Linked DNA regions of Homo sapiens. The protein of the gene in region 4 binds, or shares a complex with, the protein of the main gene of each other region. Each region holds a gene or a part of one and is shown on either strand. Other genes may lie near its edges. The genes, in order: SMARCB1, ARID1A, SMARCD2 and SMARCA2.

What was found.
Region 1: SMARCA2 (region 4) and SMARCB1 share a complex: the UniProt entries of both Homo sapiens proteins name them as parts of the BAF complex.
Region 2: SMARCA2 (region 4) and ARID1A share a complex: the UniProt entries of both Homo sapiens proteins name them as parts of the neuron-specific chromatin remodeling complex.
Region 3: SMARCA2 (region 4) and SMARCD2 share a complex: the UniProt entries of both Homo sapiens proteins name them as parts of the BAF complex.

What each region holds. Positions count from the first base shown.
Region 1 is NC_000022.11:23,782,632-23,789,987, forward strand, and holds the start of SMARCB1 (SWI/SNF-related matrix-associated actin-dependent regulator of chromatin subfamily B member 1), read left to right. Parts: upstream 1-4,334; 5' UTR 4,335-4,538; coding exon 4,539-4,631; intron 4,632-7,356. Other genes in the region: MMP11 (stromelysin-3 preproprotein), read left to right, coding at 780-913.
Region 2 is NC_000001.11:26,692,189-26,699,031, forward strand, and holds the start of ARID1A (AT-rich interactive domain-containing protein 1A), read left to right. Parts: upstream 1-3,826; 5' UTR 3,827-4,028; coding exon of another isoform or gene 4,029-4,215; coding exon 4,216-5,352; intron 5,353-6,843. Other genes in the region: translation initiation factor IF-2-like, read right to left, coding at 3,091-3,777, 4,029-4,217. UniProt on the Homo sapiens protein: Involved in transcriptional activation and repression of select genes by chromatin remodeling (alteration of DNA-nucleosome topology).
Region 3 is NC_000017.11:63,839,686-63,846,681, forward strand, and holds the start of SMARCD2 (SWI/SNF-related matrix-associated actin-dependent regulator of chromatin subfamily D member 2), read right to left. Parts: upstream 3,001-6,996; 5' UTR 2,990-3,000; coding exon 2,774-2,989; exon of another isoform or gene 2,696-2,773; intron 1-2,695. UniProt on the Homo sapiens protein: Involved in transcriptional activation and repression of select genes by chromatin remodeling (alteration of DNA-nucleosome topology).
Region 4 is NC_000009.12:2,010,827-2,018,358, forward strand, and holds the start of SMARCA2 (SWI/SNF-related matrix-associated actin-dependent regulator of chromatin subfamily A member 2), read left to right. Parts: upstream 1-4,520; 5' UTR 4,521-4,578; intron 4,579-7,532. UniProt on the Homo sapiens protein: ATPase involved in transcriptional activation and repression of select genes by chromatin remodeling (alteration of DNA-nucleosome topology).

The DNA.
Region 1 (7,356 bases), on a different chromosome or scaffold from region 4:
GGCCGGCTAGTGCTACATTCCATATTGCAGATGAGGAAACTGAGGGTCAGAGAAGTGCAAGGTCTTACCCTGGTTTTTCAGCCACAGCCAGTAGAACAATAAACTGCTGTACACTGAGGGCCAACAATGCTCTAAGCTCCTTACTGGTCTCATCCAGTTCTCAGAACAGCCCTCTGATGTGACACCTGTTGTGAACCCAGTTTCCAGAGGAGCAAACAGAGGCTCAGGCAATGAGGCCCCTAACCTGGACTACCCTGGTGGTCCCTGCTCCTAACCACTGACCCACCCAGCCTCCCACAACCACAGGGGGCTAGAGCCAGTCCAGTGCTCCCTCCCCTGCTAGGCTCCTCTTCTGTGCTCTTTCTCCCACATCAGGACCCACTGGGAGAGCTATCCTAGGGTAGCCTCCAGCTCCAGGACTCCAGGGTGCCCGTCAATAGCCTGGCTAATTTAATAGATGCAGGAGAGAGTGATGTGGAGGGTGGTGGGGGCAACGGGACTTGCTTTCCTGAGAGGTGGGACTCAGGCCTCTGAGGCTCTGGGTACCTGTCAGGCTGGGTATTAGCCCAGCCCAGATTCCGGGGCAGGCAGAAGGGCTCCCTAGAGGGAAGAGAGGTTCTGAAAGGCCGGCCCTGGATCCTGCAGGACTCGAGGAACTCAGCAGTGGCCAAGGGCTTCCCACTCAGCCCTCCCTTAGTGCCCATCCCTGGGCACAGCCTGACAGGCAGGAGTAGGGCCCAGTGTCCGCTCGCCCAGGCTTGACCACCTTCTCTTCTCAGGCTATGCCTACTTCCTGCGCGGCCGCCTCTACTGGAAGTTTGACCCTGTGAAGGTGAAGGCTCTGGAAGGCTTCCCCCGTCTCGTGGGTCCTGACTTCTTTGGCTGTGCCGAGCCTGCCAACACTTTCCTCTGACCATGGCTTGGATGCCCTCAGGGGTGCTGACCCCTGCCAGGCCACGAATATCAGGCTAGAGACCCATGGCCATCTTTGTGGCTGTGGGCACCAGGCATGGGACTGAGCCCATGTCTCCTCAGGGGGATGGGGTGGGGTACAACCACCATGACAACTGCCGGGAGGGCCACGCAGGTCGTGGTCACCTGCCAGCGACTGTCTCAGACTGGGCAGGGAGGCTTTGGCATGACTTAAGAGGAAGGGCAGTCTTGGGCCCGCTATGCAGGTCCTGGCAAACCTGGCTGCCCTGTCTCCATCCCTGTCCCTCAGGGTAGCACCATGGCAGGACTGGGGGAACTGGAGTGTCCTTGCTGTATCCCTGTTGTGAGGTTCCTTCCAGGGGCTGGCACTGAAGCAAGGGTGCTGGGGCCCCATGGCCTTCAGCCCTGGCTGAGCAACTGGGCTGTAGGGCAGGGCCACTTCCTGAGGTCAGGTCTTGGTAGGTGCCTGCATCTGTCTGCCTTCTGGCTGACAATCCTGGAAATCTGTTCTCCAGAATCCAGGCCAAAAAGTTCACAGTCAAATGGGGAGGGGTATTCTTCATGCAGGAGACCCCAGGCCCTGGAGGCTGCAACATACCTCAATCCTGTCCCAGGCCGGATCCTCCTGAAGCCCTTTTCGCAGCACTGCTATCCTCCAAAGCCATTGTAAATGTGTGTACAGTGTGTATAAACCTTCTTCTTCTTTTTTTTTTTTTAAACTGAGGATTGTCATTAAACACAGTTGTTTTCTACCTGCCTGCTTGGTCTCCTTTTGTGAATGTTCAGCCAGGATGGGGAGGCCTGGCCACTGTCCAGCCCTATCCTGGGAGCCAGGGTCGAAGTCCACCACCCCCAAGCCTCTGGCCCTTGGGGCTGGGCACAGTGCTCAGGGCTCCTTCTGCTCCATTTCTACATCACATTTTGCTACAGTGGCTTCTTAACTGGCTCCCCACTTTCCTACTTGTCCCCTCTGTTCATCCTCCAGAGTGGTGGTTTATCTGCTCATGCCACAGCCCAGCCTGCCATACATAGCTGTGGTTTCTGCATCCGTAGGCTCAACTAACCTCGGGTAGAAAAAACAATGTTTAAAAAAAGGATGCGGACGGGCGCAGTGGCTCGTGCCTGTAATCCCAGTTCTTTGGGAGGCCGAGGTGTGTGGATCACCTGAGGTCAGAAGTTTGAGACCAGTCTGGCCAACATGGTGAAAACCCATCTCTACTAAATATACAAAAATTAGTTGGGTGTGGTGGCTCATGCCTGTAATCCCAGCTACTTGGGAGGCTGAGGCAGGAGAATCACTTGAACGTGGAGGCAGAGGTTACAGTGAGCTGAGATAGTGCCATTGCACTCCAGCCTGGGTGACAAGAGCAAAATTCCGTCTAAAAAAATAATAAAGTAAATAAATAGGCTGGGTGCAGTGGCTCATGCCTGTAATCCCAGCACTTTGGGAGGCTGAGGCCAGCAGATCACGAGGTCGGGAGATCGAGACCATCCTGGCTAACACCATGAAACCCCGTCTCTACTAAAAATACAAAAAATTAGCCAGGCGTGGTGGCGGGCGCCTGTAGTCCCAGCTACTCGGAAGGCTGAGGCAGGAGAATGGCGTGAACCCAGGAGGCGGTGCTTGCAGTGAGCCCAGATCATGCCACTGCACTCCAGCCTGGACGACAGAGCAAGACTCTGTCTCAATAAAATAAGTAAATAAATAAATAAATAAATAAATAAATAAGGGATGGTTACCTCTGTACTGAACATGTACGGACTTTTTTCCCTATCATTGTTCCCTAAACAATAGTATAACAACTATTTATATAACATTTGCATTGTATTAGGTAGTATAAGGAATCTAGAGATGATTTAAGGTATACAGGAAAGTGTGTGTAGGTTATATGCAAGTATGACACCATTTTATATAATGGACTTGAGCATCTGTGGACTTTATTATCTGCAGGGGGTCCTGGAACCAATTCCCATGGATACTGAGGGATGACTGTACTTTGGTTTCCCACCACTGTGAGGATACAGAACAAAGCAACTTCAGTCACTGCCCTTCCCAACTCTCCAGTGTCTCCTTGCCCTACCTTCCAGCCCCATGTGTGTCTTCGTAATAGCATAGTTGCATTTTTTTTTTTTTTAAGAGAGGCAGGGTCTCCCTTTGTTGCCCAGGCTGCAGTGCAGTGGTGCAATCAGCTCACTATAACCTTGAACTCCTGGGCTCAAGGGATCTTCCCCTCTCCACTTCCCAAGTAGCTGGGGCTACAGGTGCACACCGCCATGCCACACCCAGCTTATTTATTTTAGAATTTTTGTAGAGACAGGGTCTTGCTGTCTTGTCCAGTCTGGTCTCAAACTCCTGGCTTCAAGTGATCCTCCCTGCCTTGGCCTCCTAAAGAGTTGGGATTACAAGGCCGGGCGCAGTGGCTCACACCTGTAATCCCAGCACTTTGGGAGGCCGAGGGGGGCGGATCACGAGGTCAGGAGATCGAGACCATCCTGGCTAACATGGTGAAACCCTGTCTCTACTAAAAATACAAAAAATTAGCTGGGCGTGGTGGCGGGTGCCTGTAGTCCCAGCTACTTGGGAGGCTGAGGCAGGAGACTCCAGCCTCAAAAAAAAAAAAAAGAGTTGGGATTACAGGCATGAGCCGCTGAGCCCAGCCACAGCTGCAATTTCATTAGATTGAACGGTGTGAAATCATCAGTAGTGGGCCACTGTTTTACTCCCTGCATTATTCAATCATGATTGCTTTCAGACTTTCATTAGTTTCACTAGCTTCGCGCTGTAAGAGCCAAGAGGCAGAGCCACAGGGCTGGGCTGCCTGGTTTCACTCCCCACTGCAGGGCTCGGTTAAGCAGAGTGTAGGCTAAGAGAGGAATGGAGAAGGTGGAAGGTGTCTCTCCCTTCCAACGCTCATCTGATGCACCAGCCAAACCAAATACCACCTGGGCCTTTGAACATTGCCAAGCCTCATCCGCTGTTGTCATTTTGCCCACCTCCACAGCTGCAGGGACAGCCGTAGGCCCGGAACTGGGATATCTCTTCCTAGGGGCCTGCCTATCTGCTCAGCTGCACTGCGTTTTAGGGGTGGGGAAGCTAAGGCACGAGATTGGGGTCCCAAAGCATGCCCAGACCACCCAGGCTTCCAGATACTAGGTCCTCCTCCTTCAGGCCTCACTTCGTTGCTTTTCCCCTGGGCTCAGTTCCAGTCCTGGCTGTAAGACTGGGAAAGCCACTGCTTGAGTCAGGACCTCATTGGCTATTTTTGTCCGTGAGAAGTCCTCTACACCACGACTTGGGAGGCAGCCTGGGAGAAAGAGAAATTAGTCGTGGCTCCTTTAAGGGGTCCGCGGAGGCGCGCCCGGCCTTTTGTTTGAGCGGCGGCGCGCGCGTCAGCGTCAACGCCAGCGCCTGCGCACTGAGGGCGGCCTGGTCGTCGTCTGCGGCGGCGGCGGCGGCTGAGGAGCCCGGCTGAGGCGCCAGTACCCGGCCCGGTCCGCATTTCGCCTTCCGGCTTCGGTTTCCCTCGGCCCAGCACGCCCCGGCCCCGCCCCAGCCCTCCTGATCCCTCGCAGCCCGGCTCCGGCCGCCCGCCTCTGCCGCCGCAATGATGATGATGGCGCTGAGCAAGACCTTCGGGCAGAAGCCCGTGAAGTTCCAGCTGGAGGACGACGGCGAGTTCTACATGATCGGCTCCGAGGTAGCCCGGGGCGCGTTCTCGCCCTCCCCGGGCTCGGCCCCGCGGGAGCCCCGGGGCGGGCCCATGCGCCGAGAGCGCGCGTCTCCATTCATCGGGGCGGGCGGGCGCGCGCGCGCGCGCTCGGGGCTGTGGGGCGTGGCCTAGTGGGCGTGTCGGGTGTGGCCCCCGCCCCCTCATCGACCTGGGATTTCCTTACTTATTTCGCCGAGGTCCGCCGCCTTCAGTGCTGCCAAGATTTTGGCGCCGCGAGGGGCCCCAGTGGTTCCGCGCTGGGTTGGTTTCCAGTCAGACGCAAAGAAACGGGATATTGAGTTAGCCCCTGCGACGCTTGGGGGACTGCACTGCTGCCTTTGACCCTTTTTAGATGTCGTAAATTTCACGTGCACCCCTCCCCGTATTGCTACTTGTGGGAACCTCAAATGGCAGGCTGGAAACCCTGGACTTAGTGAGGGCTCATCCCCATTGTGTTTGTTGCCTCTTAGGTGAGCAGTGGAGGTCTTTTGACCTTTGTTTACCGGTGAAGAAACAGATTGGAGGAAGATGTTTGCTTTTGGGTGAATAAGGGCCCCATGCCTAAGCTAGATCTTTCAGCAGTTCTGAAGCGATTGACACTTTCCATATCTGTGAACTGATTCTGAATTATTACAGGGGAAAGAGCCTAAGGATGTTTAACCCTTAACTAGAGTGGCTGCATTTTGTTGCATCAACTGGATGACTGACTTCAGGAAAACTCTACTGGCCTTTGAATGGGTGTTTGTTCCAAGTCTATTAGGTTCTTGTTTTTTGTTTTTTATAGAGACAGGGTCTGGCTATGTTGCGCAGGCAGGTCTCCAACTCCTGGGCTCAAGCAGTCTGCCCGTCTGGGTCTCCCAAAGTGCTAGGATTACAGGCATGAGCCACCACACCCGGCCATATATTAGGTTTTTACAGATTGTCTCAAACTAGCCTTTTTTGCTCCAAAGGCAGTCCCCAGCTAGTATATGTTACCTTTTTAAAAAAATTATGGATATACAGTTCAGATGTACAAATGTCAAGCAGTAGAATCTCATGTAAGGAAGTAAGTGCCAATCCTGGAGAATTAAAGCTATCATGAAATGCCAAGAGTTTCTTCTCCTTATAGCAGTTTTTAGTATCATATTCCAGCATTTTATTCGTACTTTATTTTCTTTTATTTTTGAAAAAAGATCTCACTTTGTGCAGTGGTGTGATCTCGGCTCACTGCAGCCTTGACCTCCTGGGCTCAAGCGATCCTCCTGCCTCAGCCTCCCAAGTACCTGGGACTACAGGTGTGCACCACCGTGCCCGACTAATTTTTGTATTTTTTGTAGAGACAGGGTTTTGCCATGTTGCCCAGGCTGGTCTTGAACTCCTGGGCTCAAGTGATCCTTGCACCTCAGCCTCTCAAAGTGCTGGAATGACAGGTGTGAGCTACTGCACTCACACTCAGCGCATTCATACTTTTTAAACTTGTGGGTTTTATCCTTCACAATTGAGCATAGCATGAATGAATGAAGCCTCAAGATGGTCACACTGAGTCCCATGGATGAGACTAAGGTCAATAGCATCAGAACTTTAGTGTTAGCATTTTCCACCATTTTTTTTTTCTGGACGAGGTTTGACTCTATCACCCAGGCTGGAGTGTAGTGGTGTAATCTCGGCTCACTGCAACCTCCGCCTCCCAGGCTCAAGCCGTCCTCCCACCTCAGTCTCCCAAGTAGCTGGGACTACACGCACACACCACCACACCCGGCTAATTTTTATATTTTTAGTAAAGATGGGGTTTTACCATATTGTCCAGGCTGGTCTTAAACTTGTGAGCTCAAGTGATCTGCCCGCCTCGGCCTCCCAAAGTGCTCGATTATAGGCGTGAGCCACTGTGCCTGGCCTCCACTAATTTTTATAAAACAAAAAATATAGGATTCAATAAAATTTTCACGTTGTCACTTAAATTACAACTGTTCAAAGATGCCAGTGCTGGGGAGGTAGAGCCAGTGCCTGTCCATCTGCCACAGTTCAGAATGGTCCTCATTGGCCAGTAGGCACCTGCCTAACTGCAGAATGCAAAAGGTGTCAAATTTCAGCCTGTGATACTAGGCGAGTTGTTTACCTGATCTAATGGGTGTAAAAGTAATCAGTTTGGCTCTAAGTAGGTGACACTTCAAAAGAAAGCTTTCATTTATTAGTTGGAGCAAATTGAGAAGCTGTGCGTGGCCAAGTGGGAAGAACCTTGGGAGGCCTGGTTCCAGCCCTGCTCTGCCTTGCTGTCGTGTTTCTCATGTGTATAATGTGATGCTTAGACTAGATGGTCTCCAAGATCTTCCCCAAAACACATTTTAGTTTCTAGAAAGCTAATTACAGTCTTGTCTTTCAGCCCCTTGACTCCTGGGCCTCCCAGTAAGAATAATCTTCCTGAGACCCAGGCTGTAAGAGACTCAGTTGGAGAGGCAGTTTGTTCTTTTGGGCCTGACTTAATCATCAGACCTTCGGAGTTTAGGGAAGAGTTCAAGGTCAGAGCTCTATTGAAATTCAGTAGCTCCAGTGATAGTAGTGGATGGACGGTCTCAGCCCACTGCCCTGTGGAAAACAGGCACTGTATTCAGAGAGGTGGGCCAGCCATAGCAACATACCCAGTGCCTCCATGCGCCATCTGTGGAGCTGTCTTGGGAAGGCATCTGCATTTACTAAGAGTGTGTGTCACTGTTCTGCCATTAACAGACAGCTGTAT
Region 2 (6,843 bases), on a different chromosome or scaffold from region 4:
CCTGGTTTGCTCCTTTGGGATTCTAGATCCTTGGCAGTCACAGTTTTACCGCGAAGAGCTGTTGAATGCCATTCCGAGTTCATTCCATTTTTCTCCGTGTGTGCATCCAGTTCGTATTTTACAGCTCCCGTATGGGAGCCGGTAACATAATGAATTGCCTTGACTCTCGCTTCAATCCACTTTCCTCGCTTAATATGCAGCCCAAAGTTTTGCAGCTCGCTGTCAGATGGTAGTGCTAGACTTTCACACCGATCCCAAAGCCTCCGCTGGGGCTGTTTCTTAACACGGAGTTACAAACTTTAAGAACAGACAGCTCCAGACGGAAATCCACGCCAGGCTTTGAACTCTGCTTCTGGCTTCCGTCAACTGACATAGTTGCCCTTTTGCTCAAACTCGCAGCTCCAGTTCGCACTCGAGAGAGCTCTGCTGGGTGTCTGCTGCTGTTCCGCGGCGGGAACGTGTGGGGGCAACAACCTGGCGCTCCAGCGATTCTCCACGCCTTAGTTAGGAATCTAAGCAAACCCTCGCTAGGGTCCCTGGGCTTAAGACGACTTCTCCCACAAGGATTGGGTGGAGGAAGGAGCCGAGCCCGATCTTCTGTTTGTTTGTTGAGTTTTGTATTTCAGACATTTAGGGGAAGCAAATTGCGAGAAAGGAAGGGCTGTCTTCCCTGCAAACGTTTCCCTCTCCTAGCAAACCCTCCAGGCCTCGGTTCCACATTTTGCAGTTGACTCTCTGGATTTTAATAGGTTGTTCCCTTGTCCTCGGGCCCAATCCATGCACGCTGTGCAGCCGGATAAAATGGGAGCACATCCTCTGCCATTTTCAGCCGGTTTGTCCTGGCAGCCCTGCCCCCTTCCTTGGCTGCTCTGCCGCTGGAGTTAATACGCCCAGAAACTCCGCCTGATCCTCCAGGCCTCAAATCCAGTCCGCGTTTGCTAAGTGCCGTGCGGTCGGGGACGGCGATAAGAACTCTCCTGTGAGGGAGAGCTAGCGAGACTTTAGTCCGGTTTCCATGTCAACGATTCAGTCCATATTTGCCATCAGGCTGTTGGCCGAGGTGCTTTCGCGAGGGTAGCGCTGTCCTAGTCCTAGTTCTCCAATCTGCGCCGGGATTCCTGAGCTGCCTGGGTGTGGGGTTAAAAGGCAGGGGCCGTGGGGGAAAAAACTCCACCGAAGGGAGGACCCACTGCCCCCAGCCGGGGTCTCGCTGCTCGGGCCAGCCACGTGCCCAGCTCCTCCCCTCCCCCGCTTTCCCGTTGCCACTGCCCCTAGGGAAAGCTGATGGGCCAGTTTCTAAAAAAGTTCCCTCAGCCCAACATTTCCTGGGATCGTGGTGTGGGGCTCTAAAAGTAAAAGTGGAAGAGAACCCTAGTGAATTAAAAAAAAAAAAAAGTAGAGAAATTCCACATTATCTCCTCCAACCCAGGTGGATAGATTTTTGTGCACTTTACCTTATTGCTAGAGAAAAATGGTGACTGTTTTCAAAACAGCTTGCCCACGTGTAGGGAAGGAGATTTTTGGCGCTTTCCATATTTCACAGCCATTGAAGAAAGGGGATGAGGGCTTTCTTTGGAGAGAAATCCATTCTAGCTTCCAGATTTTCACTGGGCTCCAGGTTTCCCATTACACCCCAGCTCTAAGGAAAATGGCAGAGTAATGGCATGTAAAAAAATCCTCATTTGTGTGCAGGACTCAGGACTGTTTGCCAGCTCAGGGGCAGTTGATTAAATAGCCAAGCTCTATTTATGAGGCAGCCTATAATTTGGTTTCTAGGACCTAATGCACCGGGGAGAGTTGTTGCCCCTGAGGACTGTGAGTGAAAAGAGGGCACTGGCCCATACCAGTCAGTCGGATCTTCTTGGTAGGCTGGTTTGGTTCTTGGCTTGAGGCCGGGGGAGGGGAGAAGAATAAAACTGTGGGATTTTTTTTTTTTTTAAATCTCATCACTCTTAGATTAACAGGAAGGTTTTGCCTTTCTGGTGTAGGATGCAGTAAGTTTTCTTGGGGAGAGAAATGAGTTCAGGCTTTGGAATTATTCATAGTGACCAGGGACATTGCCAGCACTCCCGGGTCCTGCATAATCTAAGATAATGCTCCTGTGGCCATGAAGTCTCCCTTTACAAAATCTGAGGGGGAAAAGAGATCCTGGTGTCTAGGAACACTGGCCTGGGCCTTTCCCAAGGCAGCCTTGGGTCTGGTGAGGAGCTGGAATCCCCTCTGGCTTTTGTAGCCTGTCATATCAGAACATTCCAAGTCAGCCTGAGGAAGAAAAGGCTGCTGCTGGGATTTGGTGGGGCCTGTAGATCAGGAGAACACTGGAGCTTTCTGTGTATGTCGATCTTTTCAGATAAACCTGGCCTTCTACCCAACTCCAGCTCAATCGGGGTCTCTTAGAATGTAATGGTAAACTTTAAACAATCTTTACGCTACAGGATAGAAAACAAATCTGACAAGCATCCATTTTCTAAGTGACTTGTTGGACTGTGCCTTTTCTTCAAGGAGAAAATGGTTTCCATTTTCTGCATCTCTCTTCTGTAATGGTTTGAACACTCAGGTTCCTGCAGTCCCTGGAGCCTCTTCTGTGGGTTTTCAGTATTAGAAGGTACTGTCTTTGGAGACTGGGGCTACTTGTCATGGTAGGCTAAGTTTTCTTAAGAGGGAGTGAGAAACGGTGTTTAGGTTTTCCTGCTGGGTAACTGTTCTATGCTCCTAAAGCAACTTCAGTGGCCTCCATTTTAAGTTAGTGGTGAGATGATCAGTTTTGACTTCAAATCCATTTTGATATTCTGATCCCATTGTTGAATGTGCTCACAACTTGATTTTTTTTTTTTTAAAGGCAAGTAGACCGAAGGCAGCTTTGGTGACTCCACTTCTTTTTAAAGTCACCCTCCTCTGCCCTCTGACTTTAAGTGACAGGCAGTTCCCTCCCCTCTCTTTCAATTCTGTAAAATGGGGATAATCCGGACCTCATGCCCCCAGAGCCTTGTAAGGACCGGCTAATGAGGGCAGGCGAGTGGGAAACGAATCGTCTGAACAATGATCAGTCATTCTTTCGGGCTTGCAAAGAGGGTAAAAAAGGTTGGGTCTTTAGCGGGGTCCGTAGAAGGCTTTGAAGACGAAAAGTGCTGTAGAGGTGCTAAGCAGCAGCCAACGGACCGGGCCCGCTGCCAGGGGGTCAGGGCTGGGCCGAGGCGGCCGCGGTCTCAGGCTCTGGCCAATTTTGCAGCCGCGGGTAAAGTTCACGCTGCCCGCTCCCCTCGGTACGGCCGGGAGGGGACAGACCTGGATAGGGACGCCGGGAGGGAGGCGGCGCAGGCTCCAGAGATGCGCGGGCTCCGGGCCGGGTTTTCTCCGAAGCCTTCGGCGGCGGCGCTGCCTAGCGAAAGCGGCTGAGGGCCTGCCGCCGCCGCGGCTTGTTCTCTCCCCTCCTCCTTTGTGAAGGGAAGGGAGCGAGTCCGTTCCACGGCCTGCGCCCGCTCCGCTCTCCACTCCGGGTTTGCCAGGCGGCCGCGACGGCGCTGGGTAAAATGGCAGTGCTGAGCCTCGTGTCGGAGTGAGGGGGACTCGGAGGAGAGTGGGGCGCTCTAGCCGCTCAGTCCGGCCGACCGCTTGCTCGCCCGCCCGCTGCCGCGCAGCAGCCTCGACCCAAGCCGCAGCTGGCGAGGGGAGGCAGGGCGCCGGGCTCGGCCCGCGCTCTGACTCTGGCTCCCGGCGCCCCGGCTGCTGCCGCGCGCCCTCCAGCCCGCCCGTCCCGGGTCCCCCTCCCCCCGCTCCCTCCCTCCCTCCCCGCCCCCTCCCCCTCGCCTCCCTCCCTCCCTCCCTCCTCCTTTCTCCGGCAGCAGAAAGCGGAGAGTCACAGCGGGGCCAGGCCCTGGGGAGCGGAGCCTCCACCGCCCCCCTCATTCCCAGGCAAGGGCTTGGGGGGAATGAGCCGGGAGAGCCGGGTCCCGAGCCTACAGAGCCGGGAGCAGCTGAGCCGCCGGCGCCTCGGCCGCCGCCGCCGCCTCCTCCTCCTCCGCCGCCGCCAGCCCGGAGCCTGAGCCGGCGGGGCGGGGGGGAGAGGAGCGAGCGCAGCGCAGCAGCGGAGCCCCGCGAGGCCCGCCCGGGCGGGTGGGGAGGGCAGCCCGGGGGACTGGGCCCCGGGGCGGGGTGGGAGGGGGGGAGAAGACGAAGACAGGGCCGGGTCTCTCCGCGGACGAGACAGCGGGGATCATGGCCGCGCAGGTCGCCCCCGCCGCCGCCAGCAGCCTGGGCAACCCGCCGCCGCCGCCGCCCTCGGAGCTGAAGAAAGCCGAGCAGCAGCAGCGGGAGGAGGCGGGGGGCGAGGCGGCGGCGGCGGCAGCGGCCGAGCGCGGGGAAATGAAGGCAGCCGCCGGGCAGGAAAGCGAGGGCCCCGCCGTGGGGCCGCCGCAGCCGCTGGGAAAGGAGCTGCAGGACGGGGCCGAGAGCAATGGGGGTGGCGGCGGCGGCGGAGCCGGCAGCGGCGGCGGGCCCGGCGCGGAGCCGGACCTGAAGAACTCGAACGGGAACGCGGGCCCTAGGCCCGCCCTGAACAATAACCTCACGGAGCCGCCCGGCGGCGGCGGTGGCGGCAGCAGCGATGGGGTGGGGGCGCCTCCTCACTCAGCCGCGGCCGCCTTGCCGCCCCCAGCCTACGGCTTCGGGCAACCCTACGGCCGGAGCCCGTCTGCCGTCGCCGCCGCCGCGGCCGCCGTCTTCCACCAACAACATGGCGGACAACAAAGCCCTGGCCTGGCAGCGCTGCAGAGCGGCGGCGGCGGGGGCCTGGAGCCCTACGCGGGGCCCCAGCAGAACTCTCACGACCACGGCTTCCCCAACCACCAGTACAACTCCTACTACCCCAACCGCAGCGCCTACCCCCCGCCCGCCCCGGCCTACGCGCTGAGCTCCCCGAGAGGTGGCACTCCGGGCTCCGGCGCGGCGGCGGCTGCCGGCTCCAAGCCGCCTCCCTCCTCCAGCGCCTCCGCCTCCTCGTCGTCTTCGTCCTTCGCTCAGCAGCGCTTCGGGGCCATGGGGGGAGGCGGCCCCTCCGCGGCCGGCGGGGGAACTCCCCAGCCCACCGCCACCCCCACCCTCAACCAACTGCTCACGTCGCCCAGCTCGGCCCGGGGCTACCAGGGCTACCCCGGGGGCGACTACAGTGGCGGGCCCCAGGACGGGGGCGCCGGCAAGGGCCCGGCGGACATGGCCTCGCAGTGTTGGGGGGCTGCGGCGGCGGCAGCTGCGGCGGCGGCCGCCTCGGGAGGGGCCCAACAAAGGAGCCACCACGCGCCCATGAGCCCCGGGAGCAGCGGCGGCGGGGGGCAGCCGCTCGCCCGGACCCCTCAGGTACACAGCTGAGTGGGGAGGGGGCTGGGGCGAGCGTGGTCCTGGGGGTGGGTGGCGGCTGCGGTGAGCGGGCCACAGCCTTGGGCTCCCCTCAGTCCCGGGCCCCCACTGCTGGGGAGCTGCCATTGTCTGGCTCTTCTCTCTTAAAATGGCTGCCTGTCTGCCTTCCTCTCCTTCCCTCCTTCAGCCTTTGTGTTGGGTTTTTCCAGAGGTGTCTGCTCCTCTTTTTCCTCTCCCCTGGTCCCTTCGAACTCCAGGGGTCTTGATGGGGGTGCGGGGCAGAGTGTGCGGGGAAGGGCCTGGCCGGGGGTGAGGGGGTGAGGGGGCGCTGGGGGCTCAGGTTAGGAGTGTAGGCAGTGGTAGGAGCCCAGGAGTTGAATGAACGTTTCTTTGCTCACCTGCCGCTCCTCTCCGTCCCCCGGCCTTCCTCTGGGCCGCCCCCCATCTGTGCTTTCAAAGAGGGCCCCTAGAGCTCGAGGGGACCTCGAGGGGAGGGCAGGGGACTGCTTGGGAGCTGCTAGAGGCCGGCTGCGGTTCACCTAGGGCAGCCCGGTCCATCTCCTGTCTTAGGCTCCGCCGGCCCAGTGGCCTGGGCTTCTCCCTGGAAGTGCTGGTAAACAGCTGAGTGATTGGAGTAGTAAGTGCAGATTGCTTTGGTTTGGGATTTGAATTATGGAGGTAAAATCCTTCTGTCAAAGCCAGGAGACAGTTGGTCTTAGGTTGACATCCTATCTGTGATCTGATTGGCTCCCCATCTCCTGCTCTTGGCCATTTATAATTGCCTCTGATGTAATGGTACAACAATCCTGATGAGCTCATAAACTTTTACACTCTGCTTTTCTGCCAGTGATAACCCAAACTATCGCTGCCACTATCTGCCTTTTATTCCAGAGCTGAAATTGGCTGTGACCTTGAGGAGGGAGGTTTAAGTAGCAATACTGTATCAGCAAGAGCAAAGCCTCAGACAGCCTGCCCTTGTTACATTGTGCCCAAACAAAAGAGGAGGCAATGGCATTTTGCTTGTACCTTGGATTTATTTTGCTTGTTATGTTTTATGCAGCCTGAAATGAATTCTGTGTTGTCAGAACAGTAGCTGAGTTTTTTCTCTACAATGGGTTTGCTGTTTGTTTTGGTTTTGTGACTTTCCTGATGGTATAAATGACTTCTTTGATGGCTCTGAAGATGCATTTATCTTGAGTAATTTTGACACTGGTTGCTTTGCAGAATTGAAATGATTTTACTGGGCTTTTTATTGAGTGGCAAATGTGGGATCTTTATGGGGGGCCAGAAAACAGTTTTTGTTATTTTTTTTAGAACTGGGAGCTTTCTGAGGAATTTTATATTAGGTTCAAGCGGTCTGTTTTAAGGAAGACTGGCCTCATTCTTTGTTTACATGTTGAATCTTGTTAACACTTTCTTTTGTTAATTGAACTTTGGAATAGCAGCTTAATTTAAAGGGAAGCTGGTGTCTTTCATGATCTTGAGGGACTT
Region 3 (6,996 bases), on a different chromosome or scaffold from region 4:
GGCCTGGATCAATCCCCTGAACCCCAGATGAGGAATCCAGGGCTCCGGTGAGCGTGCTTTGCCCTGCCCCAAATGTGGCCCTGATGCTCCTGGAACCTGGGCCTGAGGGCCTCAGTTGGGGAACATACCACCCACTCTCCCATGAGTAAAAAGGATTTTGAGGCCGGGTGCAGTGGCTCACGCCTATAATCCCAGCACTTTGGGAGGCCGAGGCGGGTGGATCACAAGGTCAGGAGTTCGAGACCATCCTGGCCAAGATGGTGAAACCTCGTCTCTACTAAAAATACAAAAAAATTAGCCGGGCGTGGTGGTGGGCGCCTGTAATCCCAGCTACTCAGGAGGCTTGAGGCAGAGGATTGTTTGAACCTGGGAGGCGGAGGTTGCAGTGAGCTGAGATCATGTCACTGCACTCCAGCCTGGGCGACAGAGTGAGACTCCGTATCAGAAAAAAAAAAATTTTTTTTTTGAACTTTTTGAACTCTCTGGAGTGAACCCAGCAATCTGAGGTTTTTGTTATTTTGTTGCCCAGGCTGGAGTGCAGTGGCAGGATCATAGCTCAATGCAGCCTTGAACTCCTGGACTCAAGCAATCCTCCTGCCACAGCATCCTGAGTAGCTGGGACCATAAGCGCACACCACCATGCTTGGCTAAATTTTTTTTTTTTTTTTTAAGAGATGATGGTCTCACTATGTTGCTTAGGCTGGTCTTGAACTCCTGGTCTCAAGTAATCCTTCTGTCTGGGCCTCCCAAAGTGCTAGGATTACAGGTGTGAGCCCACCATATCCTGCCCTGGAGGTTTTTTTCTTTTCTTTTTCTTTTTTTAGGTTCCTCTGTTAACTGTGATCCACAGCTAGAACCACCCTCTGGAGGAAGGGAGGTCATCACTTCCCTTCTTTCAACTATTTGCTCAGCTTGGGCCTCAAATTCTCACTTTTCAAGTGCATCTCATGAGCCCTAACAGACAGGAACCCCTTTGTTTCCCAGATCTCAAGTCCCTTCTCCTGGCAGTCATACAACTGGACTTGGAAAGAAGGCAAATAGGATCCTCTTCAAACTCAGCCAAAGTTAGCTGGCTGGGTTCTCCTTCCCATCTACCTCTCCTGCCAGGAGGAGGAAAGCTAGTGGGATGGGAAACCCAGACTCAGGGCCATCTCCTACTTCCGCACAGCTAGCAGCCCAGGCCTAACCAGCCAGCCAGCTTGGCCTTGCCACAGGCCCAAGGCCACCCCCCACCAAAACATGTGGAATCCATCCTCTCAGGGGCTGTCCCAAGGGCACATTTCCTATGGCTTGCATGCCAAGGAAACTGGAGCGGCTTGTCTGTTCCAGGTCCTTCCAAGGCCAAAGGCCCACAGATGGTGCCCAGGCCAGGTCTCAGTGGGCAGGCCCAAGGGCTACAATGAATGATGCAGGGAGCCCTCAGCAACACCCTGGGCCCATGAATCCCCAACGGGGACAGCAAGGTGGGAGAGATGAGCCCCAGCTGGAATCCCTGGGACCAGGTCTGTCTCTGCCCATACCCAGACTCTCTTTTCTCTTGAGAAAGGAGGAAGAATGAGGAGTAAGAAGGAAAAAAAAATCCAGTCACTGTCCCTAGTTAAGCCATCTCCTTAGAAGTGAGGGCCCAGTGGGGCAGGTAGGCTGTGTATACTCCACGAGGATCCCTAAGGACCTCTGCCTGGAGACATGAGTCGAAAACAGAGGAAGCCCACAGCAAACCCGTAGATGAGCAAGAAGCCAGTGTCAAATGCTTGGGCACATGGCTTCGGACGTGGTGGAGTTAGAACCTGAAGGCCAAATAAAAATGCAGAGAGGGTGACAAGGCAGATGGGCACAGTTTCCAAGCCCTCTGGGGCAACCTGAACAGCAGACTAGAGCACTGGCAGGGTCAGGCTGAGGTCCTCACACACTGAGCAGAAGTCGCTGCTTTGCAAGGGCTTTTGAAGCTGCAATCTGAGCAGCTCTCAAAACCCCAAAGGGGTCAGGACAGCACTCTTTGAAGCAACTCTCGCAGACTCCTCCGGCCCCAGACCAGCAGGGCTCCACTCTGCACGTCCAGACTAATCAACTCCCGGACACGATGACAGGAGGCAGAAAGCCCAGAAGAGAGCCGGCCTGTGACTGGGCTGGGCCTCCCCTCAGGCCAGGCCACCACCGTCTCTGGTCTAAGCTGGAGTCCTCCCAGCGAAGGCGCCTGGCCCTGCCTCAGGAGTAAAGTCCGCCCGTGCACAAGCTGGAATCCCCTGGCCCTAGCCTCAGCGTCCCGTGCCCGTGGGAAGCCAGGCTCCTTCCTCCTTATTAGCAGCCGGGAGCCATCTCAGACACGCTAGAGCTCCGCCAGTTCCCAATCAGAAAAAACAGGGCAGACTTGGACTGGGACCAAGGCCGATGCAGGGTAACCCCGGTTTCTCAGCGAGGGCCCTTTCCCAAACTTTCTCATCACTTTCCAGCCCTCCTACCCTAGACTTCTCAACCCACCCGCCACAATTCACTGGCTCCCCAAACTCCTCCATCTCCCAGTCACTCGGAATCCCTGTGCCGCGGAAGCCCCCAGGCCTCCCAGCTGCTTCCAGCCCTCCGCTGCAGAACCTGCTTCCCCTTCCCACTTCTCCACCGCGACCCGCCGCAGCCCGAGGGTCCCGGCCCGCCCTCCACCGTCTCCCGGAGTTCCTCATGCATTCCCCAGGGCCCTCACTCGAGGCCCCTTCAGCCGCCGGCCCGGGCGCCCTCGCAGCGCCTCTCGCCCCCGTCCGCTCGCGTCCTCCTTGCTCACCTGGTACTGCGCCGCGGGGCCCGCGGGGCCCATGGGGCGGAAGGCGGCGGCCCCGGGGCCCCCCACGCCTCCTGCCGGACCCGGTCCCCGGAGCGCCGGTCCGGGCAGCATGCCGGGTCCCGCGGGGGGAGGCGGCGCTCCCAGGGCCGCAGCCACGGCGCCGCCGCCAGGGCTTAGCGGGGGCAGCGGGAACCCGCCCGCGCCTCGGCCCGACATCGCTCCGTCCCGTCCCGCGGTGCCGCGATCCGGACTCCGGGCTCCGCGTCGAGTCCACTCCGTGCTCTGTGCTCCGCGATCCGGGACTTGGCGATCTTAATTCCGGGTTCCGGGATTTGTCGATCCGGGCTCCGGGATTTCCTAATCCAAGTTCGCGAGTTCCTCACAGACCCGGTTCGGGACAGATTCCGCTCCTGCCCGGGAGATTCCGGATCCAGGATCTGCTGCGGGCCCGCCTTCCGTCCCCGGCCTCCGGAGGTTTGGCCGCCCGAGTCGAGTTACCCAGAGGCGGCTACGAACTCCCTGCCCCGCCCAACCCAGCCCAGCACTAGGCCCCGCCTCTACCTGGTGCCCAATGCTCGAGTGCCTCCTCGAATCCTGCCCCTCGCGAGACCCGCCCCCAGCGGGCACCGCCCCTAACTGCCGACCTCAGAGCCCCACCCCCCCACCTTTGGCCCAGCCTTTCGTCGGAGGGGCGGGAGCGGAAGCTGCGCGCGGAAGCGCCGAGTGAGGCGCGGGGTCAGAGGTCTAAGGTCACTTAGGGGCTTCACAGTGAATGAGCCGTTGCTACTACTCTCTCCCGGTATAGCACCCTCACCGAATTCCGCGGCCACACTCCCCGAAAATAGTTTTGTCAAGTCTCCTTTCTGCATCTTCGGCGTTAAAGACTCAACTCAGAGTCGGTAGCTGTGGCTCACGCCTGTAATCCCAGCGCTTTGGGAGGCTGAGGCGGGCGGATCCCCTGAGGTCAGAAGTTCGAGACCAGCCTGGCCAACATGGTGAAAACCCCGTCTCTACTAAAAATACAAAAATTAGCCGAGTGTGGTGACGGGCGCCTGTAATCCAAGCTACTCGGCAGGCTGAGGCAGGAGAATCGCTTGAACCTTGGAGGCAGAGGTTGCAATGAGCCGAGATCGCCCCACTGCACTCCAGCCTGGGCGGCAAGAGTGAAACTCATCAAAAAAAAAAAAAAAAAAAAAAAAGACTCAGCTGCTCTGTGGGGCAGAACAGCAGCCAACTCAACTTCCTGTAAAAGCTCATGCTGGTAGCTCGGAACTGCCAAGGGACCTAGGAGGCTCCAGACTTGACCCAGCTGGTGAACGGTCGACTTGGCCAAGGCTGAGTTCTACCGCACATTTTTAACGTGGCTCCGCCTCACTTTAAGGAAGCCTGGTACTTTACTCCCCAGAAAATGCTTCTAGTCAAAAGAAATTTGGCTTATGAGAAACCTCCCCGCAGTTTAAAAAAAGAGGTCTTTCTCCAGTATTTATAGCACTTAATTTTCAAAAATGCAGTATCTTTTCAGGTACACTGTGCTGTATCAAAGTATTCAAAAATGCGTCAGCTGTGCCAGGGAGCCTACCCTCTGATGGTCTGGATCTCCTCGCCGTGATATGGACCAGTGCTGCTTAAACTTTAATGAGCACATAAAAAACACTCGAGGCTCTTATTAAAAATGCAGATTGTGGCAGGGCCCAGGACTCTGCATTTGTAACAAGCTGCCAGCGATGCTGTTGCTTCTCAGACCACACTGTCAAGAAGCCGGGATCTAGACTTTTTTTTTTTTTTAGTTTTTTTACTATAATTGCTTTATTTTTCCAGCCCCAACCAAGTAATACTTCCTTCCTTGCATCATAGCACCCCAGATCTTTTTTACAGTATAGTTCTCCAGTGCTTTTTAGAAATTAGTTCTCCTCATGCCTCTAGTGATAAACACCGCTGCTGCTGTTTTCTTACCTCCTGAACTTAGAGATCCCACTCTATTGCCCCAAGAGTCGATAACCTGTCAGTCTGGGGACTGGCCACTGGAATTGTTAAAGTCACTGAATCATGGCCCCTCCCATCCCTGTAAAGTGGGTTAAGAGTTCATGATAAGGCAGCTAATATCCATTTCAATCCTTTTAAGCTTCTAGAACAACAGTAATTCTCAAAGTGATAGGGGCAGTGGAGAATCAGAGTCCTCTGGGAAGCTACTCCAAAATACCTCCGCCAGCCACCCCTCCAATCCAATGGCTCTCAGTATTGTATTTGAAAAATAAGCTTCCTAGGTAATTCTGATGCGACCCAGTGGGTCGCATCAGAAAACACAAGATTTTTTCTACCCTAGAAAAGGGGCAAGCTAATAAGTGCATTTAAAAGCAGATCAGCTGGGTGGAGTGGCTCACACCTGTAATCCCAGCACTTTGGGAGGCCAAGGTGAGTGGATCACTTGAAGTCAGGAGTTCGAGACCAGTCTGGCCAAGATGGTGAAACCATGTCTCTACTAAAAATATAAAAATTAGCTGGGCGTGGTGGTGCACACCTGTAATCCCAGCTACTCAGGAGGCTGAGGCACGAGAATTGCTTGAACCCAAGAGGCAGTGGTTGCAGTGAGCAGAGATCGTGCCACTGCACTCCAGCCTGGGTGACAGAGTAAGACACTGTCTCAATAATAATAAAGCAGATCAAACGGTTAAATATAACTCAGTTCCTGTCAATCCCTTGTTTAAAACCCTCCCCAGCTCCCCATTGCTCTTAGATTGAATGTCACACTCCCTCCTGTGACATTTAAGGCTCTGCAGGACCTGGTCCCTGCTTACCTCCTTGGGTTCATTTTAAATCACTGCCTTTGGCTCTCCAAGCATTGGCCCAGATGGTCTCCTTGCAGTTTTTCAAACTACCCATCCCCTTCCCATCTCAGAGCCTCTCTGTTCTCTCACACCCTACTTCCCACCAAGTGATTATCACAGTACATCATTACTTAAGTGTGTGCTGATTTACTGTCTGATGTGGCTCACCCACTAAAATATAAACTCTACGAAGGCAGGATCTTTTTCTCTCTCAATTTATCTTTTTATTTTAAAATTTGTATTTTTTTAAGACAGTGATTTGCTAGGTTGCCCAGGCTGGCCTCAAACCCCTGGGCTCAAGTGATAGTTCCTGAATAGCTGAGTAGGTATACACCACACCTGGCTATTTTTTTAAATTGAAGTGAGATTTACGTAATAAAATTAACTGTTTGAAATTGCACAATTCAGTGGTATATATTACATTCACAATGTTGTGCAACACCTCCTCTACCTAGGTCCAAAATTTTGGGGTCCAAAATAATGACCCCAAAAGAAAACTCCATCCTCATTAGAAGTTGCTCCTCATTTCTTCCTCTTCCCAACTTCTGGCACCCACCAATCTGGGTTCTGTCTCTAGATTTATCTATTCTGGATACTTCATATAAATGGAATCATAATAGGTGGGTGTTGGGCATGGCTTCCTTCACTTAGCATAATGTTTTTGAGGTTCATCCATTTTGTAGCATGTATCAGTACTTCCTTTCTTCTTATGGCTGAATAATATTCCATTGTATGTATATAACACAATGTGTTCATCTGTTTGTCTTTGTATTTATTTGTTTATGACAGCATCTCGCTGTGTTGCCCAGGCTGATTTCAAACTCCTTAGCTCAAGTGATCCTCCTGCCTTGGCCTCCCAGAGTGCTAGGATTATAGGCATGAACCACCATGCCTGGCCCTATCCATTTATCTGTTGATGCGCAGTAGGGCTACTTCTACTTCTTGGCTATTCCAAGTAGTGCTGCTATGAATATATATTTGTATTTGAGTACCTGTTTTCAGTTATTTGGGGTATATACTGTGTCTCCCTTGATCCCTGTTGTAACTTAACAAATATGTATGAACAGACAATGTTTGAGTGTAGTGGGAGGGAATGATAAACAATAATATAATATCAGTTAATATCAGATATATCAGATAATATAAACAATGAGTTAACTGTGTTATGATAAAATATCCTTAAGGTGTTAGGGAGCAAATAGAGATATCTGAGGCATGGTAGAGATAAAAGGAAGATTTCCTACACAGTAGGCAGAGAATAGGTAACATTTACTGAGCATTTTCTACGTGAATTAGCTCATTTAATCATCACAACACATAGGAGGTAGATACCATATATGAGGTACACACTATTTTTACCTCTTTTTTTTTTTTTAAAGAGTTGGGGTCTCACTCTGT
Region 4 (7,532 bases):
AGAGAAATAAAAAGGAGCTGCAATTATAATTGTGACTACTGTATTAAACAATTGCCATGTATGCATTCATGTTACTCCTAGCCTAATTTAAAAACAAACAAAACCTCTTGTCGGTGCTCTTTCTATGACTACAAGAGCTGTAGCTTCTCCTCATCTTCCCACATCCCCCCTCCCCAAAACAAAACAAAACAAAACCAAACAAAAACCAAACACATTTTCCAAGCGTTTTCAAGCCTTGGCAGATACTGTAAAGATTCGGAACACTTACTGATGTTGTTCATTAACATGATAATTACTAATAGTGAAGACCGGCTAAATTTTCTATGTCAGGTAATTTTATTATCTATCTCTCATCCTTTCCTTCAACAAAGTTTTTTTTTCTTTTCTTTTTTTAAATACAATGTGCTAGGTATCAGGGTAATTGCTGAGGTTTCAAAGATGAATCGAAACACCCTCCAGGCACTAACCATCTAGAGGACAACACCAAACAAATAATTGCATCAAAGTGATAAGTGCTATAATGGAGGCGCACACCGGTTGCTATGGGAGCAGAGTAGGACAAGCAGCTTCCTCTGCCTGGGGAGAACAGGGAAGACCACTAGAAGGATTCTGGGTCATAGTTGAGTTTTGAGGATGTGGGTTGAGGATCTGCACTTCAGTCAGAGGGGAGAATGTCCAATGTGGTCACTTAGGAACCAAACGGTAGACAGGTTTTCCCTGAGCCCAGGCATTTTTGGCGGCAGGGTCAACAACGCTGGTAGAGACCTGTCTATGCACAGCCTAGGATAACATGCCAAGAAGTTTGAAACTTACCGTAAAATGGATTGGGAATAGACAAAGGATTTTAAGCTAAAGAACGATATAATCATAAAGAGAATTGGGGGTGGTATTTTGGGGGAATGATTGTGAAAAACATAATTTATTGAACATGCCCATTAGAAAAAAAAGAGAGAGCGGGGTGTGGTGACTCACCCCTGTAATCCTAGCACTTTGGGAGGCAGAGGCGGGTGGATCACTTGAGTTCAGGAGTTCCAGATCAGCCTGGCCAACATGGTGAAACCCTGTCTCTACAAAAAATACAAAAATTAGCTGGATATGGTGGCGGGCACCTGTAATCCCAGCTAATCGAGAAGCTGAGGTTCGAGAATCCCTTGAACCTGGGAGGCGGCGGTTGCAGTGAGCCAAGATCCCGCCACTGCACTCCAGCCTGGGCAATAGAGCGAGACTCTGACTCAAAAAGGAAAAAAAGAAAAAAGGAGAGAGAGGAGTGTTTATTTCTGTAATAAATTTACTTGTTAATTCTAAACTATTCTTTAAATTAAATGTCAGCTGATTCAATTTGTCAAATCTTGGTTTCCATTACTGAAGATGAAATACTCACTGCCTAAACGGTCTTACCTGCTCGTGTTTGAAGCTAGGCAACATTTCAGGCAGCATTAACAGTTTGTCTGTTGGGACTAGAAGCTTCCTAACGTTGTGCATGGAATTTTTCTTTATGAGGGTGTTGTATCCAGATACCAAGTTTTAAACCCAGTATCTACTCTATACAGAATGTAACCAAAGCAGACTTACATAACAAGTGAATGTGGCCATACAGACATGAAAAAGTGACTTCTATCTTTTGATACCAAACTAGAAAGAGAAAAGCAAGTTCAGAGAACACATTATGACTCATCAAAGTCCAAAAAGAAAAGCTGCGTGTGAACGTAGCACCCTGTGCAGCCTCCTGGAGTCCTTTTACCCTCCAACCACATTTGCTTTTGTATGATTTTCTGCAAAACAAAACAAAAAAAACCCATCATTTTCCTCCTTAACTTCAATTGTTAAATTTCGTTTTACCTCAGAGGTGAAACTCATGCTATATGTTCTACAATCTTCTTTTTGTACCAAGTGAATGACGCTGCCTTTTCATTTCTCCTGTGTTGAGGCCTTATTTTATAAAATTCGTAACTGCTAGGGTACAAACTACAAACAAGACGAATTTTTAGAGGAACAACTTGAAGGGTGATGGGGGAAGGTGGTGCTTTCTTAGACCAATGCGAAGGGAGAGGGAGATGCAATATCTATATTTAATCTCTGTTCCCAACGATGTATTTTAATTCCCATAGCTGTGTGTATACAATGCGTGGATACCAACGCCTCCAAGGACAACATCAAAATTTTATATGAGCTGAAGAATATACACATATAACAAAGGGAATGTTTTCTTCTTTACTTTCCCTGTGACAAAATGCCAGAAGGAATGGACAGTTTCTTTCTCCAGGGACTTACTAATTGATTTGTTTTTGTTTTTGTTTTTTTGAGGATTTGCATGGCAAGTGGAAGTAGAATCTTAAGGGGATAAAGGGCATTTATTCACAAGGGAATAAAAGTGAAGTTATCAATTTCTGAAAATTGGCATGTGAGGCCGGCATGCCAGAGAAACAAATTAGACCCCAAAAAAATTAAAACCTAATACTCTCAATGTAATAAGCATTGCTATTAGGTTAAATCTCTTTATTAGAGACAGGTAGGTTATCTGGCTATATTATTAGTTGCGACTTATTAGGCAGTTAGAAGTTAGTATTTATGTTACACTTTTACTATACTACTAGTCTTGTTTAAAATTTCTCCCTATATATTTCTCAGTTAATAGTTATACCGGCATATCCTCAGGCAGAAAAACAAGTTCTTACAATGGATCCTTCAGGGCACACTATATTCTATTTCTCTTAGCTGTGTTATCTTTCGTTGTCTTGAGGTTCACTTCAAGATAGACAGAAAATGATGAAGCTAAAGTTAACAAGCAAGTAGCAAGACCTTAGAAAGCTATAGGGTGGGTGATCACCAACACTCCCAGCCATCATGAAAATGCTGCCCTAGTGGGCTCTGCTTCAGCCAGCAGTGGACCAGTGATATAAAGAATTCTTGCTTCTTAATGACTACATGGCAGTATTTGGCGTTCTTTCCATTACTTCTTGTCTTCAACTTATCCAGCCTGAAGTTTTAAGCATCCTAGAACTGCATTTCAGACCCAGTTGCTCAAATGGAGTCAATTTTGCAACAGTAAAATGGTCTTAAAATAGGATTTTACTCTAGGGGGAAGAATCCTCAACCAGATAGTCACAGTGCACTTTGAATGACTAATTTAAGCCATTACATTACGAAATAAGGGATAAATCATACTTTTCATAACACTACTGCATAGGAACAGTTTTAAGAGTCAAGCATCTACATTAATCTGAGTCTAAAATAATAGGCCCCTGATTTAAAGTCTCCTAACATTCTTTCACACTTCATAAAACTAAAAATAAAATTGTCTCACCAAACACCGACCTATTGGTCCGGCCAAAGTACTGTATTTCAAGGAAAATTGGAGCAAAGAGGTCTCAAAACCGCGACTTGCCAGCAAATTACAATTTGCAGCCTTAATTGGTCTCAAATGCGGGGTGAGAGGGAAGAGACTACGGTCTGTAGAAAATAAGAGATTTATTCCCCTTTTTAAATCAAAACCAGATTCCATGCTTCAGCCGCCCCCTAACCCGCCAGCCCCGCCCCCAGGGTTTGTTTTTCCATATTTTTGTATATATTTTAGCGAAGATGGCAGGTGAGGGAAGGTTATAGTGCTGTACCTAGTCCACGAAGTAAACAGAGAGGTTAGGGTGGGTTTACTTATTTATAAGGCGTTCAGCCTCTCAGCTGTTTCTCCCTCGTTGGCATTTGGAAGCTTGCAGTCCTTCAGGGAAGAGACAGATTTGGCAGGAACGTTCTTTGTGCCCGCCTCCCTTTTCTATTTTTTATTTTTTTACCTGGAATAGGGGGCAGATTTATAATGACAGCCTTAGGGAAGGGGGAGAAAAAGTTTCAGCCGGCACGACAATGCCCGTTTTTTCCACAGTCCACACTGTGCCACAAACAGCTTTGGTGCCACTCGGAGCCCGTCCCCCGTCCCCTCCCTCTCTCTCTGCAGGCTCGCACTGGCAGGCGGAGGCACAGTTAAATTCCAGCACCTTCTCCACATACCCCCGAACTACTACGCGCTATTACTACGGCTGCCCTCCGTTTTCGCTTCGCCTCCTCCCCTTCCGCAGTCTCCCTGGAGGAGCCCCGCGGCGCCCGAGGAAGAGGACTGCCAGGGAAGGGACAGCGGGCGCCCAGCTCCAGCAGGGCTTGGGGCTTTCTGCATCCCGCGCAGTTTCTCTGCTCCAGGCACAAACGCGGCCCGAGAGCCGGCGCCTTGCAGTCACACACGGATCCACGCATACAGTAGAGCTGTCTAGATCCACATTCTTGCACACCGCCCCCTCCTCCCCCCGCGCTCCCGGAGTCGCTGAGCTGAGCGAGTGACAGGCGCGTCCCGCCAACCCGCGCCCGGACGGGCAGGGAGGAGCGGCGCGCGGGGCCAACTGCGGCGCGTCTTCCGGCGCCCGCGGAGGAGGCGAGGGTGGGACGCTGGGCGGAGCCCGAGTTTAGGAAGAGGAGGGGACGGCTGTCATCAATGAAGTCATATTCATAATCTAGTCCTCTCTCCCTCTGTTTCTGTACTCTGGGTGACTCAGAGAGGGAAGAGATTCAGCCAGCACACTCCTCGCGAGCAAGGTAAATATAACTTACAACTCTTTTCTCCTCTTTCCCCTCCCTTCGGCCGCCCCGCTGCAGCCGCCGCTCAGACCCCTCCGGCACCACGCCGCCTTCGCCCGGGATTATCCATTATTATCCTAATTATTATTTATTGTGCATGCAAGGAGACCAAAACAAACAGGCGGGCCAACCGCCGCGACAAAAAAAAGCCCGCCTCCTCCCCGCGGGCCTCAGGTGGAATGCTCTAACGACAGCTCCCAGGCGGCGGTGGAAGAAACGAGAAAGTTTCAACCGAACCTTGCTGTTCTAATAATAACAGTAATAATTACTACTTCAAGGGGGCAAAGGAGGAAAAAAATCCCAACAAGCCACAGCCTTGATCCTGAGTGGGCAGTCAGAGGCGCTGCCAACTCAAGGTTGCAACACACACATTGGGCCAGGTTGCAATCCCCCCATCCCCTTAAAAGTGAGGCGGCGGGGAGGGGGGTGGCCGCAGGAGGGGGAAGGCCTGGGGGACAGGGGAGGAGGATGGAAACGCTACTGTTCATCCCGGGCAACCCTCCCCGGAAGAGTTGGAAGGGGAACGGGAAAGGAGGGCGGGGAGCCCAGGCTGGCGGCGGGGCGCCAACGGACGCTGTTGCCACCCGCTTCCCAGGGACTTGTTCAAAGGGCTCCGGCTGCGGAGACGTGAGCGGATCGCAGCGGGAGAAGCCTGAGCTGACGCGCGAAGGAGGTAGCGGCCACTGCCGCGGGGCCGGTGCGTGCCTGATCGGAGGTGTCACCTCCACTTTCCGCGTTTCCTCCGGCGTGGATGGGGAGGCTGATTGGTAGGCAGGCCTTTAGGCAAAGGGGCTGCCAGGGGGCTGCGCCCCGGGCGCTGCGGACGTCCCTGCCTCTGGTACCTGGCGGCAGCGCAGGCTCGGGTGTTAAAGTTCGGGATGTCCGGCCCGGGCCGCACTGCTGGAGGGAAGGGAGGAGGCCCCCAAGGAGGTCGGAGGTGCCCGCCAGCCTCCGTTACCCTGCCCTCCCTCTCCCCGGGTCCGTGTTCTTTTGCTTCGCGTCTTCCCCTTGCTTGCGCCGCGGGAGCTGCGGGCGTGGGGCGCCTGCGATCGTCCGGGTGCTAGGGGCGCGCCGGGACCCAGGAGAGCCACGGCGGCGGCTGCGGGCCCGGGAGGCCATGATCCGGATAATCCTGTCTGCCTGACTGTCACAAACAGGACCCGCGCACCACCGGGCAGCGGCGGTGTGGTTCGCCCGGGAAGGGGAAGGGCTGCGGTGGGGAGGGAATAGGGGGGTGGCGAGGGCGGGAGGCGGGGAGACCGGGTAGGAGCCTCCTCCCAACGATGACACGCACTCCTTCCTTCTCGCTCCCTGCTCAGGAGTTTGCTTTATTCCCATCCCAACCTGGTTTACCCCTTCCTTTGCTCTCCCCCTCCACCCGGCCGTCTTCCCTTCCTCCCGTTTGCGTTGCAAAACACGGCCATGCCATCTGCAAAGGTGTCGCGATGCACTTCCCTAAATAACCGGTCCGGCGCGCCAGCCCCTCGGCGCCCTCCGGCCGCAGGGCGCACACGGAGCACAGTGCTCCCGGTGCCCCGCACCAGGCCTCGCAGCCTGGGTGCAGTTACACGGCGGAGGGCGGGGCGCGGCAGTGCGGGCTCCGGCGGACACCCGCGCCTTGGCCGGGGCACTTGGGCCGGTTTCCGGTACACGCGGGGAAATCGCCTCCTGCCAGTGTCTGATCGCTCGCCTCCGCCTCCGCCTCTGCCGCCTGGATTGCATTATTATTTTTATCCGGGTTGCCGTTTGCTGCGGATGGTGGTGAGCGCGGGGCTGGCTGGGCTGCTTGGGGGGTGGGGTGGAGGGAAGTTGGACGTGGATCAGGCAGGAAAAAAAAAGTTTGGCAGGGCGGCTAAGTAGGGTGGAGGGGTGGGAGGGGGCTGCGAGCTCCCGCGGCTCCAGCCTCCGCGCCCTCCCGGCCGGCGCGAGTGTGTCTGCGCGTGAGTGTGAGTGTGAGTGTGTGTTGTGCGCGCAGGAGCCAGTGCGTCGGGAGCAGCGGCTCGGGCAGCTGCTCCTGCCCGCACCCTCCCCTGGAGCCCGGGGAGGACAAGGCGAGGTTTGGTGGCGAGGGCTGGTGGGGGTGGCGTGTGCGTGTGGTTGTGAGTGTGTGTGTGTGCGCGCGCGAGCGGCGGAGAATCAGGAAGTCACAGCAGCGAAGCGCACACAGCACACAGACATGTTTGATTGCCGTGACATGACGCGCGCGAGGGAGGAAGCGGCAGCGGCGGGGGCCGGGCCGCGGGCTGTGGCGCGGGCCTAGAGCCGCGGCTCGGAGACCGGTTCCCGTCCGCCGGCCGCGCCGCCACCCCAAGCTCCGCGAACCCCGCGCCCCTTTTTGTTCCGCGTCCTCCAGGTAAGGAGCCTGCGCAGCCCTGCCGCCGGCTGTGTGCGGAGCTTTCCAGTTCTTTCCCTGCCAGCCCCCTCCGGTCTCCCGGCTCGCCTTTCCTGCAAAGTCAGGCAGGCGGGGGAAATGGGCTCCTTGTCCTCCGATCGATTGCGTGGAAAACTTTCCAGCGGGAGGCACCATGAGGGGGAAGAAGGCCTTGCTGGCCGCTGTTGCTTGTCAGTTCTTTCTCCTCCGGGTCCGGAGAGTGTGAGTCGCTGCGCCCGGGGCTGTTGCACATTCAAACTTCGGGCCTAAACGTACCTCCAACTCTCGCAGGTTTTACTCCAGCAATAAAATAAATATTCAAAGTCGTCCACTAGCTCTTGCTAGGCGTTTGGATTTTTTAAGGGAATGAGGAAGGCTTGGGAATCGAGGGAGTGGGGGTGTTGTGCAGAATCCATTCCTTATTCAATGTCTGCACCGGGTGTTATGTAATTTTAGTGGCACATGGGTGCAAAGCCTAGACTGGGCTTCTCCCCTCCTTTGTTTATATAACTTTTGGGTGAGTTTTGCAAGGTTGTCTCTT